Regions from separate parts of the Homo sapiens genome. Here all the other regions are linked to region 3. The links come from fine-mapping of genetic effects on plasma protein levels. A gene starts in region 3. Each other region holds a variant in brackets. All regions are shown on one strand. Distances are from middle to middle. Region 1 overlaps TF (transferrin). Region 2 overlaps TF (transferrin). Region 3 holds the start of TF (transferrin).

Evidence for each region. A credible set is the group of variants that fine-mapping cannot tell apart. PIP is the posterior inclusion probability: the model's chance that the variant is causal. Protein levels are from antibody-based Olink assays in UK Biobank. Linkage for the fine-mapping came from a reference panel and not from the study's own genotypes, which makes the PIPs less certain.
Region 1: its variant is the best candidate, but not a certain one, in a credible set for the plasma level of the TF protein (UK Biobank, PIP 0.74).
Region 2: its variant is the best candidate, but not a certain one, in a credible set for the plasma level of the TF protein (UK Biobank, PIP 0.85).

Annotation. Positions count from the first base shown.
Region 1 is chr3:133,769,237-133,772,000 of GRCh38, forward strand. TF (transferrin) reads left to right here. Exons shown (of 17, transcript NM_001063.4): 14 at 1,272-1,336. Among named protein-coding and RNA genes, the nearest start is that of TF, 24 kb to the left of the region's middle. The variant G/A (reference allele first, on the strand shown) is at 1,701.
Region 2 is chr3:133,759,480-133,762,243 of GRCh38, forward strand. All of the region lies in intron 9 of TF (transferrin), which reads left to right. It also overlaps the pseudogene ACSL3P1. Among named protein-coding and RNA genes, the nearest start is that of TF, 14 kb to the left of the region's middle. The variant T/G (reference allele first, on the strand shown) is at 1,176.
Region 3 is chr3:133,745,306-133,748,069 of GRCh38, forward strand. It overlaps TF (transferrin), which reads left to right and starts at 1,088. Exons shown (of 17, transcript NM_001063.4): 1 at 1,088-1,178. The coding sequence starts at 1,136.

The DNA of each region.
Region 1 (2,764 bases), 24 kb after region 3:
CAGTTAGAGCCACTTTGTAAGTTAGATTAAGTACAATTCACATTCCCCAAGTTTCTAATTTCACAAAGTAGAGCATGTTGTTTTCATAAAGATTGAAGAGTTTGGGGGACTTAAAATAGAGTTCCCCTTTGCATTTTTGTACCTTGTCTTTTTCTGGTGATAACATATGTTTGAGAATTATAGGTCATGAGAAAAGGCTCAAATAACATGTATGTATAAACATGCTTAAAATAAATGTGTATAAAGGCTTCTTTTTCTAAACATGTCTTATAAAACTTAGCTATGAAGTAAAATGTACCAGACTGATAAAAAGACTCCAAACTCCAAAGAAAATAAAATTAAATCAATATGTGGCACAATAGGTACCCCGTCTTCTCAGCTAGCTACCCCCAAAACTCTTGAACCGATGCAGTAATAGGCAGGTTCTTTTCCTTGAAGCAAGGGGATTAAAGTACATGGAGAGCAGGGTTCAGTCCATTGTCCAAAAGTCCAACCCACTCGGCTCATTGAGGAGGGCCTTGTGTAGATTTTGAAGTACACACTAGTTCATCATCTGTGTGGTATGCCCTTTCAAAGGACTGGAAGACAGTCAAAATTAAAATTAGAACCCTACTAACCAGAGTTTATTTTGTTATTATTTCTTTTCTGAAACTTCTTGGGGACTTGTAGCTCAGAGCTGTGTTACAACCCCCATTACCACACCCAGAGATATGTGGCCTGGGAGTTAGTAGAGTCAGGTGCCTTTATGCCATGTTTTGCCATATTCTCTGCATTTCTCAAAAACAAAAACAAAAAAACCCACAACATAGCAAATGCTCCATAAATGTTAAAATTCTTTTTCAAAGGAATGAAGGACAGCACAAATTGCAATTTGTGATGGAGTTTCAGTCTCTCACAAATGTTGCCTAGACATTCGCCTTGTATGAGAACCTGAAGGAACTGAGTTTTTCATTCATATGCTGGGGGAGGCATCACCTCACTGAAAATCAATTCCCTACTATCCTTGTTGATGTCAGGGAAATTATGTCATCTCTCAGAGAAACAGTACAAAAAATTAAGATTTAGTATGTGGAACTGAGATTGTAAAACTACAATCAATTCAGAGTGTTTTGTTTTTGTTCTCTTTATTCCTTACATTGCTTACTGTTAGAATGGAAGTTACAGTTGCTGTTTTCAGATGGCTGTCCTGAATCTATAAGGTAGCCCCCTGAATGACAGATAAGTCACTCTGACCGCCTTTTTTTTTCTCTCCCACTTCTGGACCTCTGCAGGTGTCTGGTTGAGAAGGGAGATGTGGCCTTTGTGAAACACCAGACTGTCCCACAGAACACTGGGGGTAAGTGCACCTGCTCCTCTGTCCCCCTAGATCACTAGATCCTGGTCACTGGTATTCACTTGTATTCAGGGATGCCTTTGTGGAAGTATTATGTACACTGTCAGACTTCAAAGCTCTGATTCTCAGTCTGTCTGCTCAGTGAAGAGAGACATGTTCACCTGAGTGCGCAGAATGATCAGGATTATGGGGCCCCCAATGGCCCTAAATCCTCCCCAACACACACTCCCACAGCTGCAAGCCTTGTGCTCCTTTCCCCTAAATACTTCAGTGCCTATTTCCTAAGAATAAGACAATCTCTTGCATACCCACAGTATGATTACCAAGATCAGGATCTTTTACATTATGTGGATTTAATACTCGTCAC[G/A]TCCACAGTCCACATTTAACTGTTGTCAGTTATCCCAGTAATGCCTTTTATAGCTATTTACTGTACTTCTGGGTTGTGTCCATTGAGAAGGCCTAGAGGCAATGGCATACCAGCAGGAGTAAGCACCAAGATATTGGCTTGTAAGTACTCTTCTTTACTAAAAGGAACCAGAACTCCTTGGAAAAATAGCTGACTTCAGGGCTGGGGCAGGAAAAATAGATGCTGAGCCTAGAACAACACACTGAAGTGCTCAAACAGTGATGGGACACTCAAAGCATACAAGAACCAATTTGAAGGATCTCCTGTTGCCAAGTCTGGGAATTTTGAGCATTAAAATAAATAATGATAGCAGTAAGGGATAATAGCCCATTGAAAGAAATAAGAATGCATGAGGCAATACTGATTAAACAAATGAAGAAGGGAAAACTAATCAATGTGGAAGGAATGATAGAGTTAGAAAACTATCACTTGGCAACCAATATATTGATAACTGATTCAAGCAAGAATCAATGGGTGTTAAGCCGGGCGCAGTGGCTCACGCCTGTAATCCCAGAACTTTGGGAGGCCGAGGCGGGTGGATCATGAGGTCAGGAGATCGAGACCATCCTGGCCAACAAGGTGAAACCCCGTCTCTACTAAAAATACAAAAAATTAGCCGGGCGCGGTGGTGGGCGCCTGTAGTCCCAGCTACTCGGGAGGCTGAGGCAGGAGAATGGCGTGAACCTGGGAAGCGGAGCTTGCAGTGAGCCGAGATTGCGCCACTGCAGTCCGCAGTCCGGCCTGGGCGACAGAGCGAGACTCCGTCTCAAAAAAAAAAAAAAAAAAAAAAAGAATCAATGGGTGTTAACTTGTGGGTGAACGTTGGACAGCCATAATATTAATAAAAACAAACAAAACAAAGCAAAACAAACATTGGCCAGACTGAGCACTCCACACCTGACCCCTCAGTATCACTAAGTGCTAGCAGAGCCCACTGGAATTCAAGCTGTGAATACTTCCCTGCCTTCTCTCATGTTCATTCCCCAACTCCTCACTTTTCCTGGGCAACTCATCCAGAATGAACC
Region 2 (2,764 bases), 14 kb after region 3:
TTCAGAATCTTTGAGCTTGTGGATCTGAAGGGTGCCCACAGGGCTCAGTTTCCTCCTTGTATGAGTGTATGGTGAAAGGGCAGGCTGAGCAGTGCCTGCTTAGGGAGGCTGGACCATGGTGTGGGTGTCCTGAGACCAGTGGTGTGCCACGATCACTGAGATAAGATCCTGAGTACATGGTAGGATCCAATCAGGTACAAATTTGCTTTGTTGATCAAAAGAGTATCCTAGCCTGGCATGGTGGCATGCACCTGTAGTCCCAGCTACTTCGAAAGCTGAGGCAGGAGGATTGCTTGAGCCCAGGAGTTCAGGGCTAGCAACTTAGCAGGACCTTGTCTCTAACAACATTTTTTTTTTAAGAAAGAATATTCCATGTTGGCTTACAGAGAATTTTTAAAATCCTGAATGATATAAAGAAGAAATAAAAAGTACTTATAATCATGTAATTCAGAGAAAATTCCCTTATTGGGATCATTTCATGTAGGTTGCTTGCTACCTTTTACTCACTCACAGTATCTAGTAAGCTTTTCCCATATCATAAATCATTCTTGTAAAACCTAATCTGGAGCTTCTGTGTTAGTGCACACATCGAGATGGGGGAGTATGGTTTGCCTAGAGAGAACATGAAGTGCCAAGCTCCACTCCCCCTCCTCCCCACATTTCTTGCCCTCTGTGTCTCTTCCATTTGGCTATTCTTGAGTTGGATCCTTTATAATAAATCAGCAAATATATTGAAACAAAGATGCATATTATAAAGGTACTTCCTGCCATTGTCAACAGATTTTTGCTGAAATATGTTAATTCTACTTTTTGAGCACTTATGAATAACCATGTATCTTCAGAACTATCTACCATGAAGCAAAAAGGGACCATCAAGCTCATTATTTTATATTTCATACAATTTATAGATATCACTTTATGCTATTTTAACATATATTCCATTTTAATTTTTGTCTGAGTCAAGACAAGAAAAACCAAACTAAGTTAAAGCAAAGCCTACAAATTCAAAACCTGAGTCTATACAAATCTGTTAGCAGTTTGAGTGGCTGGGCTTCAATATTATACTCTGGATGTGATACAATAGATAAAGTTTTTTACGTCTGTAAAAAAAAGGAAGAGCAAAAGACTCTTGGGAACATGTGAAATCTTAAATGAAGATTAAGTACAACCAAATG[T/G]AAACATATTTTAAAAGGTTCTTCTTGGACATCATAATTTGCTCTCCTATGAAGATGTCATCGTTTGAGCCTTTAATGTTGGAAATAGCTTACAGATGTTGGGGCAGAAACCAAAGACCAACATTGCCATGTTCTGTGAGACCACGTCCAAGTGGATGATTGCTGGATAGGTATGTTTCATGCATAACATTTAGTTCATAAAATTATATGCTACTTTAGGAGGTCCAGGGCCCATGGATTAATGAAACAAAAGTAACTAATCTCATTGCTAGTAAAGAATTATTGGAAACAAAGTTGAAAGACATAGTTTATTTGGTCCCACACCTGTGACACATCATCACTGTCAATGGGAAGCCACTGACCTGTCCCAATTTCCCAAGGTTGTTATCATGGACATCATGGCTGCAGTAGAAAGTGAAGGTGAGTGTGGAAAACAGATCCCAAAGTGACCAGTGCCCTCGGTTATTGCAGTAATCATGTTCATGAGTAGACACACAGGACTTCCAAAGGGAGTCATCATCTCGCATAGAAACATCATTACTGGTATTACTGGGATGGCAGAAAGGATTCCCAGACTGGAGGAGGAAGATGACTACATTGGATATTTACCTGTGGCCCATGTTCTAGAATTAAGCTTTGAGCTTCTTTGTTTTTCTCATGGATGCCTGCTTGGCTCCTCTTCACCCCAGACTTCAGTGGATCAGTCTTTAAAAGTAAAAAATGGGCTGCCCACTGTGGCATGCAGCTGTAGTACCAGCTACTCAGGAGGCTAAGGTAGGAGGATTGCTTGAGCCCAGGAGTTTGAGTCCAGCCTGGGAAACATAGTGAGACACCATCTCAAAAAAATAAAAAATAAAAAAATAAAAACCAGAAGCAAAGGGTGTACTTCTGGGTTGAGACCAACACTGATGGCAGCTGTTCTGGAAATCATGGATCAGATCTACCAAAATGTCATGAATTAAGTGTATGAAATCAGTAGTCTTCAACACAATCTGTTTATTCTGGCTTATAATTATAAAATGGAACACATTTCAAAAGAGCATAGTACTGGATTGTGTGACAGCTTTGTTTTCTGGAAACTGTGAAGCTAGCTAGGTGGAAATATTCAGCTTTTATTGTATGAAAGTGCTCCACTTTCTGCAACACGCAGCAAGTTCATGAATACAGACTCACTGAACCTACAGGGGCTGGAACAATTACAGATGTGTGGATTACAAGACTGGCAGAAGTGAGAGTCCCATTAGTTTGCTGTGAAATTAAATTAAAGAACTGGGAGGAAGGTGGATACTTTAATACTGAAAAACCACATCCCAGAGGTAGAATTCTTATCGGTGGCTAAAATGTGACAATGGGATGCTACAGAAATGAAGCAGAAACAAAAGCTGATTTATTTGAAGATGGAAATGGACAGAAGTGATTATGTCCTAGAGATGCTGAAGAGTTTGATGGTTGTTTACAGATGATCGATCATAAAAAGGACCTTGTAAAACTACAGGCAGGAGACTATGTTTCCCTTGGGAAAGTAGAGCCAACTCTGAAGAATCTCCCAGTAATAGATGACGTTTGTGCATTTGCAAACAGTTAATTGT
Region 3 (2,764 bases):
GAAGTCTGGATTTACACTTCGTGGAAGGAATCTTGACCTTTCCCCAAGTATATTATGCCTTGAGATAATAATCCTGTATAAGGCCGCATAAGCAAAACGACATTTGAAAATGAGTTTCATCTTTAGCTCATCCTTTTACAAATTTCTATTCCTTGTGCATGATTGAAGTGTACACATTTTTTAGTTAAAATATAAGCATATAGAAGGCACAAGTTCAATATTTTTCATGATAAGGATGTGTAATTAAACTGGTTAGGAGACTCATCGACTAGAGGGGGACATGGTGGCCCCAGGCTGTAAGAACAGGCCACACCGTCCACTGGGCCGCTTGCTTTGTGCTAAGATGACACTTTGTTCTGAGCCTCACAGTGTCTTGACCATGTTCCTGGAACCTTCTTGTTGGAGGGAGTTCATCTTCCCCTATGACTCTGTCCCTAGTCTAAGGTGTCCCACAGGAAGCTTGAGGGCGGGAAGTTTTCCAGCCCAGGAGCCTGAGCTCAGCGGGGCAGGAAGAGGGAGCAGCTCCTCCGTGGGGGACCTTTGAGAGCCCAGGAGCAGGATTTCGAGGGACACCTGGTGGGGAGCAAAAGGTGCTGAGTCTGTCTTTGACCTTGAGCCCAGCTTGTTTCTCCTGCATCCTCCCCCAAAAGGGGCTTTGCCTGTCATTCTGCAGTTCTAGTGTGGGGTCTGGGCGCAGTTCTTTTCCCTCTCCAGCCTCGGAGTCTTCCTCTGTGGACTGCGCAGATAGGACTGGTGGCACGGACCAGCTCTGCAGCCCTGGAGTCAGGAGCAGAGCCCCCCGGCTCCCAGCCCGCCGTAGCCGCTCCTGGCACCGAGCGAGCCGCGATGACAATGGCTGCATTGTGCTTCATGTCCCTTCCCATCAACATTTCTGTGCTGGACTCCTTCCACTCGCGGGTCGTCTCCAGAGCTCAGAAAATGAGGTGATCAGTGGGACGAGTAAGGAAGGGGGGTTGGGAGAGGGGCGATTGGGCAACCCGGCTGCACAAACACGGGAGGTCAAAGATTGCGCCCAGCCCGCCCAGGCCGGGAATGGAATAAAGGGACGCGGGGCGCCGGAGGCTGCACAGAAGCGAGTCCGACTGTGCTCGCTGCTCAGCGCCGCACCCGGAAGATGAGGCTCGCCGTGGGAGCCCTGCTGGTCTGCGCCGTCCTGGGTGAGTGCGGGCACGGGGTAGCACCGCAGAGTCGCTGGCCCGCGCGTTCCCTGCAACCCGGGCGGCCACCGCGCAGCCTGCATGCACTCCGCGCTCAGGCTGGAAGCCTGGGTGTCTGGGTGCCTTTCCATTGCCTCTCTACGCCCCACCCCTGGCCTTTGCTTGGGCTTCTAGACACCTTTCACTGCACTCACTGTCTTCTCCCCCTCCTCCTCTTTGTCCAGTAAATCTTGCAGCAGTGAAATACAATAAATCAGAGCACGTCTAACCAGGTTATCAAAACCCTTTGCTGCTGCCTCTTGTCAAGTCCGAACTCCTTAGCATGGCATTCAAGGCCTCCCGGGTCTGACCATTCCCCTTTCAGAGGCTGATGTCCCCTGGGTGCCCTGGGAGCTGTAGATGTCCTGCCAAGGAAGCGGTGCCATCGAGCGGTCAGAGCATGGGGTTTGAAGCCAGACTTCTTGGATCCAAGTCCTGGCCGGCTCCTCACCAGGGAGGGGGTCATCACAGCACTTGCCTGGGAGGGTCAAATGAGGGTCAGCGAGGTGGCAGATGCTGAGTACCAGTGGCAGATGTTGCACACATCCTGCTATGGGGCAGTGGCTGACGCCACACTCCCCGACCTCCTGAGGTGGGGCCCCCTTCATACTCTAACTTCTGCCTGCCATTCATGGGGCATTTGTCACACTGTTGGGGCTTCCACGTTTAGTTTTCTCTCCCCATAAGCTAGCAATTCCTTGAGAGAGGACCCCACGTTACTTGCCTTTATCCCCGCACAGAGCACTTCACAGGCTGTGCAAGGTAATGCTCCACTGAGGACACATTCTCGCCTATGGGAACTCTGGAGGCAGGGCTTTGTGGAGGGGCTGCCACAGGCTTATGTTGCCTCCTAGGATTTCCCATGGGCCAAGAGGGAAAATGGGGGTCGCTGGGGTGGCCATCCCTGGTGGCCCCTCCTCATGCATCCTGGAGAGCTGTGGGCCTCCTCTCCACAGGCTTTGTGGATCTTCTTCAGAGCCAGTGAGTCAGCCTTGCTGTGGTGGCCCACAAGGAGTGGAGATGACAGAGGGCCTTGGGGACAGGGCAAAAGCTCATGTGATAGGGATGCTGTCTCTGCAACCACATGGATTTTAATAGTTACCCATGGCTGGCTTCAGCTTTTTTTGTGAATGGCAGCCAAAAAGTGTGGTGAAAATGGAGGGATAGTTCAGTGGAGACAGAGGGGAGACTGTTGAATTTGTGGAGTTTTTAGTTCTTCCTAAACAGAGAGCAACAGACAAGAGTTACAGACAAATTAATTCTTTTCGTTAATTTACCCTCAACTACTGGCCAAGAAGGGGTGTAACTCAGAATGTTTTCTTCTTTTGTGCCCTGAGTAGCAGACCCAGAGTCTGGAGACCCAGATTCTAGGCCTGGCTTGGCCAACGACAAGCAGGGTGACCTTGGGTTAAAAAAAAAAAAAGGCATCATTCTCTGAGTCTCACTCCCTCTTCTCAAAAAGATGGCAATTCCTCCCCCGCTGGTTTTCCATAGTTGAGGTAGCAAGCCAATGTGTTGGGGTAGCTGAAAACGCCCTGTGCATACTG